Regions from separate parts of the Homo sapiens genome. Here region 1 is reported to be linked to region 2. The links are microRNA targets in miRTarBase. Many come from high-throughput screens and were not tested one by one. Region 2 holds a microRNA gene; the other region holds the end of a gene's coding sequence.
What was found. Region 2 holds the annotated microRNA hsa-miR-1301-3p (UUGCAGCUGCCUGGGAGUGACUUC, at 3,983-4,006, opposite strand). A microRNA usually pairs through its seed, bases 2 to 8, with sites in the 3' UTR of a target mRNA and lowers its output. Matches are read on the target gene's strand: a 7mer-m8 pairs with bases 2 to 8, a 7mer-A1 pairs with bases 2 to 7 and ends in A, and an 8mer does both.

Region 1: the mRNA of TNXB is a reported target of hsa-miR-1301-3p. The part of its 3' UTR that is shown has no 7-base or 8-base seed match.

What each region holds. Positions count from the first base shown.
Region 1 is chr6:32,038,502-32,041,501 of GRCh38, forward strand. It overlaps TNXB (tenascin XB), which reads right to left. Exons shown (of 44, transcript NM_001365276.2): 44 at 2,652-2,949. The coding sequence ends at 2,848. It overlaps CYP21A2 (cytochrome P450 family 21 subfamily A member 2), which reads left to right. Exons shown (of 10, transcript NM_000500.9): 1 at 1-123; 2 at 221-310; 3 at 593-747; 4 at 855-956; 5 at 1,045-1,146; 6 at 1,248-1,334; 7 at 1,504-1,704; 8 at 1,905-2,083; 9 at 2,167-2,270; 10 at 2,368-3,000. The coding sequence ends at 2,633. Among named protein-coding and RNA genes, the nearest start is that of CYP21A2, 1.6 kb to the left of the region's middle.
Region 2 is chr2:25,324,669-25,332,469 of GRCh38, forward strand. MIR1301 (microRNA 1301) reads right to left here and starts at 4,053; the gene lies at 3,972-4,053. All of the region lies in intron 1 of DNMT3A (DNA methyltransferase 3 alpha), which reads right to left. RefSeq lists enhancers at 5,357-5,857, 5,858-6,358.

The DNA.
Region 1 (3,000 bases), not on the chromosome of region 2:
GCCTCCACCTCCCGCCTCTTGCCCCGGGCTTCTTGCACCTGCTGCAGCCCGACCTCCCCATCTATCTGCTTGGCCTGACTCAGAAATTCGGGCCCATCTACAGGCTCCACCTTGGGCTGCAAGGTGAGAGGCTGATCTCGCTCTGGCCCTCACCATAGGAGGGGGCGGAGGTGACGGAGAGGGTCCTCTCTCCGCTGACGCTGCTTTGGCTGTCTCCCAGATGTGGTGGTGCTGAACTCCAAGAGGACCATTGAGGAAGCCATGGTCAAAAAGTGGGCAGACTTTGCTGGCAGACCTGAGCCACTTACCTGTAAGGGCCGGGGGCATTTTTTCTTTCTTAAAAAAATTTTTTTTTAAGAGATGGGTTCTTGCTATGCTGCCCAGGCTGGTCTTAAATTCCTAGTCTCAAATGATCCTCCCACCTCAGCCTCAAGTGTGAGCCACCTTTGGGGCATCCCCAATCCAGGTCCCTGGAAGCTCTTGGGGGGGCATATCTGGTGGGGAGAAAGCAGGGGTTGGGGAGGCCGAAGAAGGTCAGGCCCTCAGCTGCCTTCATCAGTTCCCACCCTCCAGCCCCCACCTCCTCCTGCAGACAAGCTGGTGTCTAGGAACTACCCGGACCTGTCCTTGGGAGACTACTCCCTGCTCTGGAAAGCCCACAAGAAGCTCACCCGCTCAGCCCTGCTGCTGGGCATCCGTGACTCCATGGAGCCAGTGGTGGAGCAGCTGACCCAGGAGTTCTGTGAGGTAAGGCTGGGCTCCTGAGGCCACCTCGGGTCAGCCTCGCCTCTCACAGTAGCCCCCGCCCTGCCCGCTGCACAGCGGCCTGCTGAACTCACACTGTTTCTCCACAGCGCATGAGAGCCCAGCCCGGCACCCCTGTGGCCATTGAGGAGGAATTCTCTCTCCTCACCTGCAGCATCATCTGTTACCTCACCTTCGGAGACAAGATCAAGGTGCCTCACAGCCCCTCAGGCCCACCCCCAGCCCCTCCCTGAGCCTCTCCTTGTCCTGAACTGAAAGTACTCCCTCCTTTTCTGGCAGGACGACAACTTAATGCCTGCCTATTACAAATGTATCCAGGAGGTGTTAAAAACCTGGAGCCACTGGTCCATCCAAATTGTGGACGTGATTCCCTTTCTCAGGGTGAGGACCTGGAGCCTAGACACCCCTGGGTTGTAGGGGAGAGGCTGGGGTGGAGGGAGAGGCTCCTTCCCACAGCTGCATTCTCATGCTTCCTGCCGCAGTTCTTCCCCAATCCAGGTCTCCGGAGGCTGAAGCAGGCCATAGAGAAGAGGGATCACATCGTGGAGATGCAGCTGAGGCAGCACAAGGTGGGGACTGTACGTGGACGGCCTCCCCTCGGCCCACAGCCAGTGATGCTACCGGCCTCAGCATTGCTATGAGGCGGGTTCTTTTGCATACCCCAGTTATGGGCCTGTTGCCACTCTGTACTCCTCTCCCCAGGCCAGCCGCTCAGCCCGCTCCTTTCACCCTCTGCAGGAGAGCCTCGTGGCAGGCCAGTGGAGGGACATGATGGACTACATGCTCCAAGGGGTGGCGCAGCCGAGCATGGAAGAGGGCTCTGGACAGCTCCTGGAAGGGCACGTGCACATGGCTGCAGTGGACCTCCTGATCGGTGGCACTGAGACCACAGCAAACACCCTCTCCTGGGCCGTGGTTTTTTTGCTTCACCACCCTGAGGTGCGTCCTGGGGACAAGCAAAAGGCTCCTTCCCAGCAACCTGGCCAGGGCGGTGGGCACCCTCACTCAGCTCTGAGCACTGTGCGGCTGGGGCTGTGCTTGCCTCACCGGCACTCAGGCTCACTGGGTTGCTGAGGGAGCGGCTGGAGGCTGGGCAGCTGTGGGCTGCTGGGGCAGGACTCCACCCGATCATTCCCCAGATTCAGCAGCGACTGCAGGAGGAGCTAGACCACGAACTGGGCCCTGGTGCCTCCAGCTCCCGGGTCCCCTACAAGGACCGTGCACGGCTGCCCTTGCTCAATGCCACCATCGCCGAGGTGCTGCGCCTGCGGCCCGTTGTGCCCTTAGCCTTGCCCCACCGCACCACACGGCCCAGCAGGTGACTCCCGAGGGTTGGGGATGAGTGAGGAAAGCCCGAGCCCAGGGAGGTCCTGGCCAGCCTCTAACTCCAGCCCCCTTCAGCATCTCCGGCTACGACATCCCTGAGGGCACAGTCATCATTCCGAACCTCCAAGGCGCCCACCTGGATGAGACGGTCTGGGAGAGGCCACATGAGTTCTGGCCTGGTATGTGGGGGGCCGGGGGCCTGCCGTGAAAATGTGGTGGAGGCTGGTCCCCGCTGCCGCTGAACGCCTCCCCACCCACCTGTCCACCCGCCCGCAGATCGCTTCCTGGAGCCAGGCAAGAACTCCAGAGCTCTGGCCTTCGGCTGCGGTGCCCGCGTGTGCCTGGGCGAGCCGCTGGCGCGCCTGGAGCTCTTCGTGGTGCTGACCCGACTGCTGCAGGCCTTCACGCTGCTGCCCTCCGGGGACGCCCTGCCCTCCCTGCAGCCCCTGCCCCACTGCAGTGTCATCCTCAAGATGCAGCCTTTCCAAGTGCGGCTGCAGCCCCGGGGGATGGGGGCCCACAGCCCGGGCCAGAGCCAGTGATGGGGCAGGACCGATGCCAGCCGGGTACCTCAGTTTCTCCTTTATTGCTCCCGTACGAACCCCTCCCCTCCCCCCTGTAAACACAGTGCTGCGAGATCGCTGGCAGAGAAGGCTTCCTCCAGCGGCTGGGTGGTGAAGGACCCTGGCTCTTCTCTCGGGGCGACCCCTCAGTGCTCGGCAGTCATACTGGGGTGCGAGAGAGGTGGGCAGCAGCTCAGCCTCCCCCCGCTGGGGAGCGAAAGTTTCTTGGTCTCAGCTTCATTTCCGTGAAGGGCACCGAGAACTCGAAGCCCTTCCAGTGGTACCAGCTCACTCCCTGGGAAAGGGGTTGTCAAGAGAGAGTCAAAGCCGGATGTCCCATCTGCTC
Region 2 (7,801 bases):
AGACCTCCTAGACGGAGATGTCTATCTGTCAACTCTTCCCCCTCCTGTCACAACCTCTCTTGGTCATAAGACTGGGGATGGATAAGGAGGAGGGAGAGGGAGGGGGGTCTTGGTGCCATTTTCCAGTGAGATGGCCATCACCATTCCATTGCCCTGACTTTCAGAAACATTACTTGCACCCAAACTACCAGCTGTCCATAGAATACCAAAAGCCACTGGTGACAGGCCAGCAGTCCTGCCCTCTGCAAAGCTGATTTATCTGGCTCTAGAGTCACAATAAGACGGCTTGTGGCTCTCACACCACTCTCGAGGCCATGGCACCACCAGCACTGGCACCACCAGCACTGGCACCACCAGCAGGAGCACTTATGATCACACCAAACCTGCTGCCACTACGGCGGCCACATGGGAGTCTGAGTCAGACTGCTTTGCTCACACTAATGGTTGCCATGACACAGCCCCAAAAGTGAGCGGGGGGGGGATTTATACCTAAAATAGATGCTGTTAAGGAGCTGAAGTTGTTCTCAGGAGCCAAAATGAGCCAACACAGACTTCCGTAAGGCAGCACCGATTTCCAAGTGCTGCAAGCCAGGAGAAGCCCTGTCTAGGGGTCACACGTGCTGTGGGTCAGATGGGCTTCCCACGGCCTGGGAGTCAGGGGCACAGGGTGGCACAGAGTCCATGTGAGAATCAGACACATGGTCCTGGATGGGGTCTGGCAGTGACCAGCATGGGTCTGATTTTATCATCCACAGCGGAAGCGGCCCACGGTCATCTGCATGTTTCTCTACTTTTCCAACCTTCTCTACAGCATGGTCCACAGCTGCCAGCTCCAGAGCCTCTATCACTTAGTCCCCTGCGCGTGGCCCTGTTTCCCCACCCCACAACTCTAAAACCTTCTGGGGATGCTGACCTCGTCCTCGGGGGAGAGTGCTCCCACCAGGGACATATTATAATGCTTTCCCTGGGAGAGAAGACACACACACCCACTTGGCTTTCTCGAACTCCTTACGCCACTGAACTGACAGTGGAAAAAAGGAGTTATGCCACTGTCTGGAGTGATTGATCCTAGTTACCAAGGAGAAAACTGGATTGCTGATCAGCCACAGAGCCAAGCAAGACTGTGTCTGGAACCCAGCGAATTCTCTCAGGCACCTCTTAAGAACGTCCATGCCCAAAGGAAGGCTGAATGGAAAGTTATGGTAACAACAACAAAAGCGGGATAACTAAGGATTCAGGTCCTTTGGGAATGAGGGTTTGGGTTACTCCACCAAGTAAAAGAAGCATGACCTGCTAAGGCTCTGGCTGAGTGTGGAGGAAACACAGAATGGGATAAGAAGACAATGAAGCCAGGTAGCAAGTGTAAAGTGTAGCCTTGTGAACAAATGCAGAAACCAGGCCTCTAGTGGTTTTGCACATTTTCTATTAACTTGATATATATGTGTGTGTGTGTGTGTGTGTGTGTGTGTGTGTGTGTGTGTGTGGTGTGTTTGCAATATGGTAACCATTTTCTTCTTTTTTTCTCCTTCCCATTCTTTTCTATACAAGTTGTTGACAGTTAGCTTTATAATGTAGTCTTTAGGTAACAGAATATTCAGTGAGACTGTGACTGACTTTGAGAAGTTATTGTAGCCAGGGATTGGTAGAATGATGGTTGGGGCTCTCTGGGCAAAAGGGTGAGAATTTCATAAGAAGGATAACTATCTTGATAGGTAGACATCCAGTTGTTTGTTTTTGTATGGGAGTTCAGATGTTGTAGAAAGGTGCAAATGGAAGCTGTGCAGCCAAAGGGGTAAACTGTGCCAGTTATCAGTTTATTCGCCCATCATTGCCTGTGCTGTGAAGATGGAGCTGGGCCCTTTAACTACTTTTCCTTTGTCAGCTGGCACAACTGTGGAGGGCACTGAAGAGGCATTGAAGGAGGAGGTGGGTTTCCTTTCTAGACCCAGTGTGCTCTTGTTGGGTTCCTGCATTGTATACAACTTCTCTAGCAGCCAGATCTTGCTGCATGGGCGCTTCCCAGCATCAGGGTCTTGCCAGATATGAAGCTTCCCAGCACCCAGCTCCTGTGCTGCTGCAGCTTCTCCAGCATGCAGCTTTCCAGTGCCCAGCTCCTGCAGGAGTGCCAGGCTGTTGCAATGCAGACAGCTTCTCCAGCACCTGGCTCCAGCAACACGTCAGTCAGGAGTACCCAACAGCCAGGAGCTTCTCCCAGCACTCCCCTGGGAAAACGTAGCAGCGGTGTGCTTCCAGCAAGATACCTCCCACAAACAACTTTCCTTGGGACCCAAAAAGATGGATTTCCAGTAAATTCCAGAGGGTGGATTTCCAGCAAGTTCTGCCAACATGGCATTACAGAGACGTTGCCATCCAGGGAGCCATCGCCACACCCTCTCCATCAAGGTGTGGATCTCAACCCTGCGGGGCCTCTTCCTTGGGCACTCTGTGGCAACCCTAGAGGTAGGGGCTGTTCTCATATCTATTATTTTTGTATTCTTTGGAGTTATTTTTACTTCTTACTAGCCAATTCCTCATTATTCCAATCCAATTAGAGTTAATAATTCGTTATGTGAAACTTTCCTTGTTCCAATCACCATGTGGTTTCTGTCTTCTGAATGGACCCTGACTGATACAGTCACCCGCGGCCCCAAAGGGCTTTTTTCCATCCTCATGGCCCTTGAGCTCAATTCAACATCCTGGCCAGCTAATCACTCCCTGCTTCAAGCACTCACTCAACAGCCATTTCTTGAGTGCCATTGTGGAGCCGGGCCCTGGAGTGAAAGGAGACCCCTGCTTCTGGAGCTCACCAGCAACTGCCTTCTGTGTGTTCTCTCCCAGCCATGACTCCATCTGGCTCCTTGCTTCTGGGTCTCCAGCCTCAGATTCTGCAGCTTTGTCTCTGGGGCTGTCCGGGAGTCTTGATCCCACTTCTGCACGGTGGGTGCTCCTCAAAGGTCATGTTCTACCTTCAGCTTCTCTCTAAATGCTCTTCCTCTAAGACACCTGGGCATAAGTTAACATACGCCTCCTACTGCCAGGGGCTCCAGCTCTATTTATTTTCATCCCAACTGGATGACTTGCAGTCCCTAAAATCCTACTCTTCCAGAACATGCTTCTTTCAGAGCCGGCTCTATTTTCTGGTTTTTCCCTCTATGTGGAAGTAACATTCCCCTCCCTTCAGCTGCCTAAGTCCCAAACCCTGGAGAAAACTCAGGTCCCACCTTTCCCCTGGGTCCTCACATCCAGCAGGTACCTGGTCCTTGGGCTTCTCTCGTCCCCCTATTCCCTCCAGGCCCTTTGTACCTCTTGTGTCTGTGGCACAATAACCTGGTAGATGCCCTGGAGCGGGTCCACCTGCCTCTGGCATCTCTACCTCCCACCCCACCCTATCAGCAAGGATTGCCCACACATGGCTCCCTCTATGAAAACCTATGACACCTCATGACAATTTTAAAAAGTTGATTGTGAATGTACTAAAACCATCGAACTGTACACTTATATGGGTGAACTGTATGGAATGTGAATTATATCTTAAAGCTATTATTTTTAAAAATCCGGTGATGCCAAAGATTTGCACACGTGGTAAAATATACGCTCTGGCCTGGTCTCACCAGGGCTGGCTACAACGCAGCCTCCGCCCACTGCTCTGGCCGTGCCCCCACCTCTCCCAGCTGCATCATTCCAGGCCCGGCTGCTGTCCCGGAATGACACCCCTGGCTCCCACCCTCTCCCACAGGGCCCACTCAGCTCCTCTCTCCCAGTCCTTCAACCCAACATCTCTCCTCCCCCAAAACACCGTCCCCTTCTCCTCGACCACCCACCCAGGGGTCATTGAGTGTTCCATGCGTATATAGATGTGTCTGATTTCTCAAAGAGACGAGGTCAGAGTTCATGCGTTGTATCTTGCTGCCCGTCCCCCCCGCCCACAGCTTGTCCCCCGCAACCCCGTTCCGGGTGACCCTGGAGGCAGAGAGGACTGTGTGAAGTCACTCCCAGGCAGCTGCAACATCCCCAGCACAGTGCTGCGGTGCCTAGAGCGACCCCCCACAATCCCCATTCTAGGGGTCGCTTGGCAGAGCCCCCAAGGCACTGCGTCAGTGGAAAGGCTGTTTGCAGGAGCTCCGAGGGCAGAACATACACCTGCTGTGGGTCTGCAGGCTCACCTGCCCCAGATCCCCAAGGTGAAGGGGTTGGTGAGGGCCTAGGCTATCAGTGAACCACAGGAATCAGGGGGGCTGAGTCCTTGTCTGGCCTGTGACCACCCTCTCCCCACACCGTCCATGGCCACAGTCCCCCAACCCCACTTCCTAAACCAGCTCCCTCTTGGGTCAAAACCAGGAGGTCCCCCAAAGGGTCTTCAGGGCTTGGGAGCGGCTGTTGGAGCTCGTCCCCCACCACCCCAACCAATTCAGCAGGAAGGGAGCTCGCTGCTCTCAGATTTCCCACAGGGCCGCCTTTCTCCTCATCGTCTGTCCCAACAAAAACAAACCATTTGTGGAGGGGGCCGAGGGAGGGAGAAGAGCCCAGGGTTCTGAGCAGCACATCTCAGAACCATGGGCCCTGCCTCCAGCAGTCCCTGCCTCAAACCCTGGCTCTGTCACTGAGAGATTCGGGCCTCAGTTTCCCAAGTTGTAAAGCGGGGTGAGAAAGAGTCCCTATTTCATAAGTCTATTTTAAGATAGGAGGGAATCTGAGTCAAGTGTTTAACATAGGGCCTGGCACGTGGCAGGTACTCAATAAATGATCATTTAAAAATTATTATGTGCTTGATCAGAAAGAAAGGCAAGCCATATGTTCTTAGGAAACCTAGACTCTGGCTTCAGACCACACTTCAGAGTGGCTTGTGCTCACTCCTAGGAACGGCTGCTGTGCCAGGCTCCCCCTCCCAGCTGATGCCCCTAAGTCTCCAGCCCAGGCCCCGTGCCACTAGAATGGGGAATGTATTTACCAGAGAATGTCTACCTGCCACTGTGGCCTCAGGAGTCTCTCACAGTCATGCAGACCCCACACACACACACACACACACACACACACACACACACACAGACACACAGATACAAACACACATAGATGCACACACAGAGATATACCTAGACAAATGCAGAGATGACCCAGGCGCACAGGTTCACACACGCACACAGCCCCCCTCATGCTGCACACGCTGGGGCACCTGGAGCCAGAGGATGCTGGGCGGGCCTTCCGACACAGGCACACGCGTTGCACATTTCACCTACTGTATGGGCCAAAGAGGCATTTGGAAACCAGCTTGGGAACCTCATAACCATTCATAACATTGTTCTGAGAGAAAACACAAAACATTGCCCTATAAACAAACATTTGCAATAGAATTCCTCCAAAAGCTTGGAAATGCCTGTACTAGAAAACTAACAGAGCAAGAAGAGAAAAACCACATAAACTTGGTTTGCCTCTGCAAAATTAATACCAATTACAAAAACATTTATGTGAACTGCTTACCATTTACACCTAATTACCATGCAGCACAATTATGCATATCATTAAGGGTATGCCAGATTAATTATGCTGTACATTTCATTTGATTACAACGCCACACCCTGAGTTCATGTATGCCCCACTTCCAGGGGGCCAGTCCTGCAGCATGGCTGCTTGCACAGGTCTGCACAAACCAGAGAAACGTGGATTTCCACACTCGGATGGACCGCAGCCCCCACCCCACCCCCAGCCAGAGACAGCCCGACTCCCACCCGGCCTTCTTGGCAGCATCAACAAGAGCCCCGCTGCGAAGCCATCTTCCCAGCAGATCCTCCAGAATGCAGAGATGCTTCAAAGGTCTCCCCAGGGGTGTGGCTGCATGTCACAAGGCCACCATACAGCCCAAGGGCCATCATGTACGGCCCTCACAGAGGAAGCGGCCCTCTCTGCCATCTCCTGAGGTCTGGCTCGGAAAGCAGGGCAGCCTAGCCCATGTCCAGGCCAAGTCCTTCCCAAGCTCATCTCCCAGACCCACCAGGGCTCTGTGCCCCTATCCCCTGGCACACTGAGCCAGCTACAGGGCAAGGTCCCAGCTGTGGTCCCACTGGGTCCTGCAACATCCCCCCTGTCCCCCATGCCCTCTGCTCTCCCGGACAGCTCTGCACAGACCCTCCCTCCCCTTATTAAAAAGAAAACAGGAACTGACCCCCAATAACTCCCATTTAGCTCAGTAGATGCTCTTCAAATACACTGGGTGAACCAGGTTTGCAGGGAATAATTGGGAACAAGAGAGTCAATAGAACATGACGAATGGACCTTCCCAGGAAGGGGGAACTCAAAACTTGGAGTTTTGGAGGGAACAGGAGGAAACAGGCTTCTTGGGAGGCAAAGAACCAGAGGAAGTGCAGAAGCGAGGGAGGGAAGGAAAAAATATCCAGGTTTAGTCCAAGAAGCAATGCTCAAAACAAACAACACCAGCCTGTGAAGTTATGTCCATTTTACAGATGGTAAAACTGAGCCTAAGAAAGGTTGAGTGATCTTCCAATGACACGCAGCAAGGAGGTGGCAGGGGTGAGGTGAAACCATCATCTGTCCAGTCCCCAGCCTGGTGGCCCCAGCACGATGCCACACTGCTCCTGGCCTCTATCTAAATTCAATGATGCTGACATGGCTCACGTCATTTTTTGAGAAATTCTTTGGAAATAGCCTTCCACATTATCCTTCACATAACACACATAAGCCTCCTTTCTATTTTAGAGGAACAGTTTTTGCTTCTTTTCTGTTTGCTTTCCAAAAATGCTGTCCCCAGCTTGTCCCTCCTATCTCTCTCCGCAGACCTGCCTCTGAATGGAGAGTGACGGAAAGGCTGGACAGCTTGACATCAACTTCCAGCCCACCCAAAGATTCTCAGACGGTGATGATGCTCGCCGCAGGTCCTGGGTGGAGGGCCAGGGTCTAGGCCTTGCAGCTCATCTTTTGGGGAAATCACTGTGAAGTAGAGGCGCTAACTCATCAGCATTCCCAATGCAAGGGTGCGAGCACCTTCCTCAAAATCTTCCTTCAAACATCTGCAGGGGTCGTACCAGTTACAGACTGAAATGCACCTGCCTTTCTCATCCATCGCACAAGGCACCCCGCCTCCAGGCCTTATGACTCAGGCTCCAGCCTCCTTCTGCAAGCCTGGCCTGGCTCAGCCTCCCCCTGGGGAAATCCCACCCGCCCTCAAGCCCCAGCTACAACCCAGCTCCATGTGGGAGGCACCTCCTGCTCTCTCCGACTCCCCCCAACCCATGCCCCCTCCATGAAGGGCATCCCCACCCACACAGTTGGCTGAGCTAGAAACCAGACAGCCACCCCAACTCCCCTCATTGCTTTTATCCCGCCTGTTCCTACTGACTGCACTTCCTAAATGTCACACCACGCACACCCTGTCCAGGCCCACATTGCTGCCCCGGACTTCTGTGCCAGCCTTCCACCCGGGCTCCCTGCCCCTAAACCCTATTGCCCGAGCTCTCGTCCTCGATGCCCTAGAATGATCCTTCTCAAATATAAATCCCAAGCCCAACGTCCGTTCATAACATCCCGCCTTCCATGTCCCCCGGCCCAGGCCCCTGGCTTCGTATCCCATCGTTCCCTACACTGCAGCCACATGGGGCCAGAAAGTGCCGTCGTCCACCTAGCTAACTGCTCCCTCCGCTTCGAGACTCAGCTCAAGCGTCACCTCCTTTAGAAAGCCCTTCCAGATCTTCTCTCCCCCTGAATCCGACTTCCTTCTCTGAGCCCTGGTAATCCCTGGACATGGTGTGCCAGGGGTCCTTCCGCCCTGCCAGACCCCACCTAAGCTGCAGGG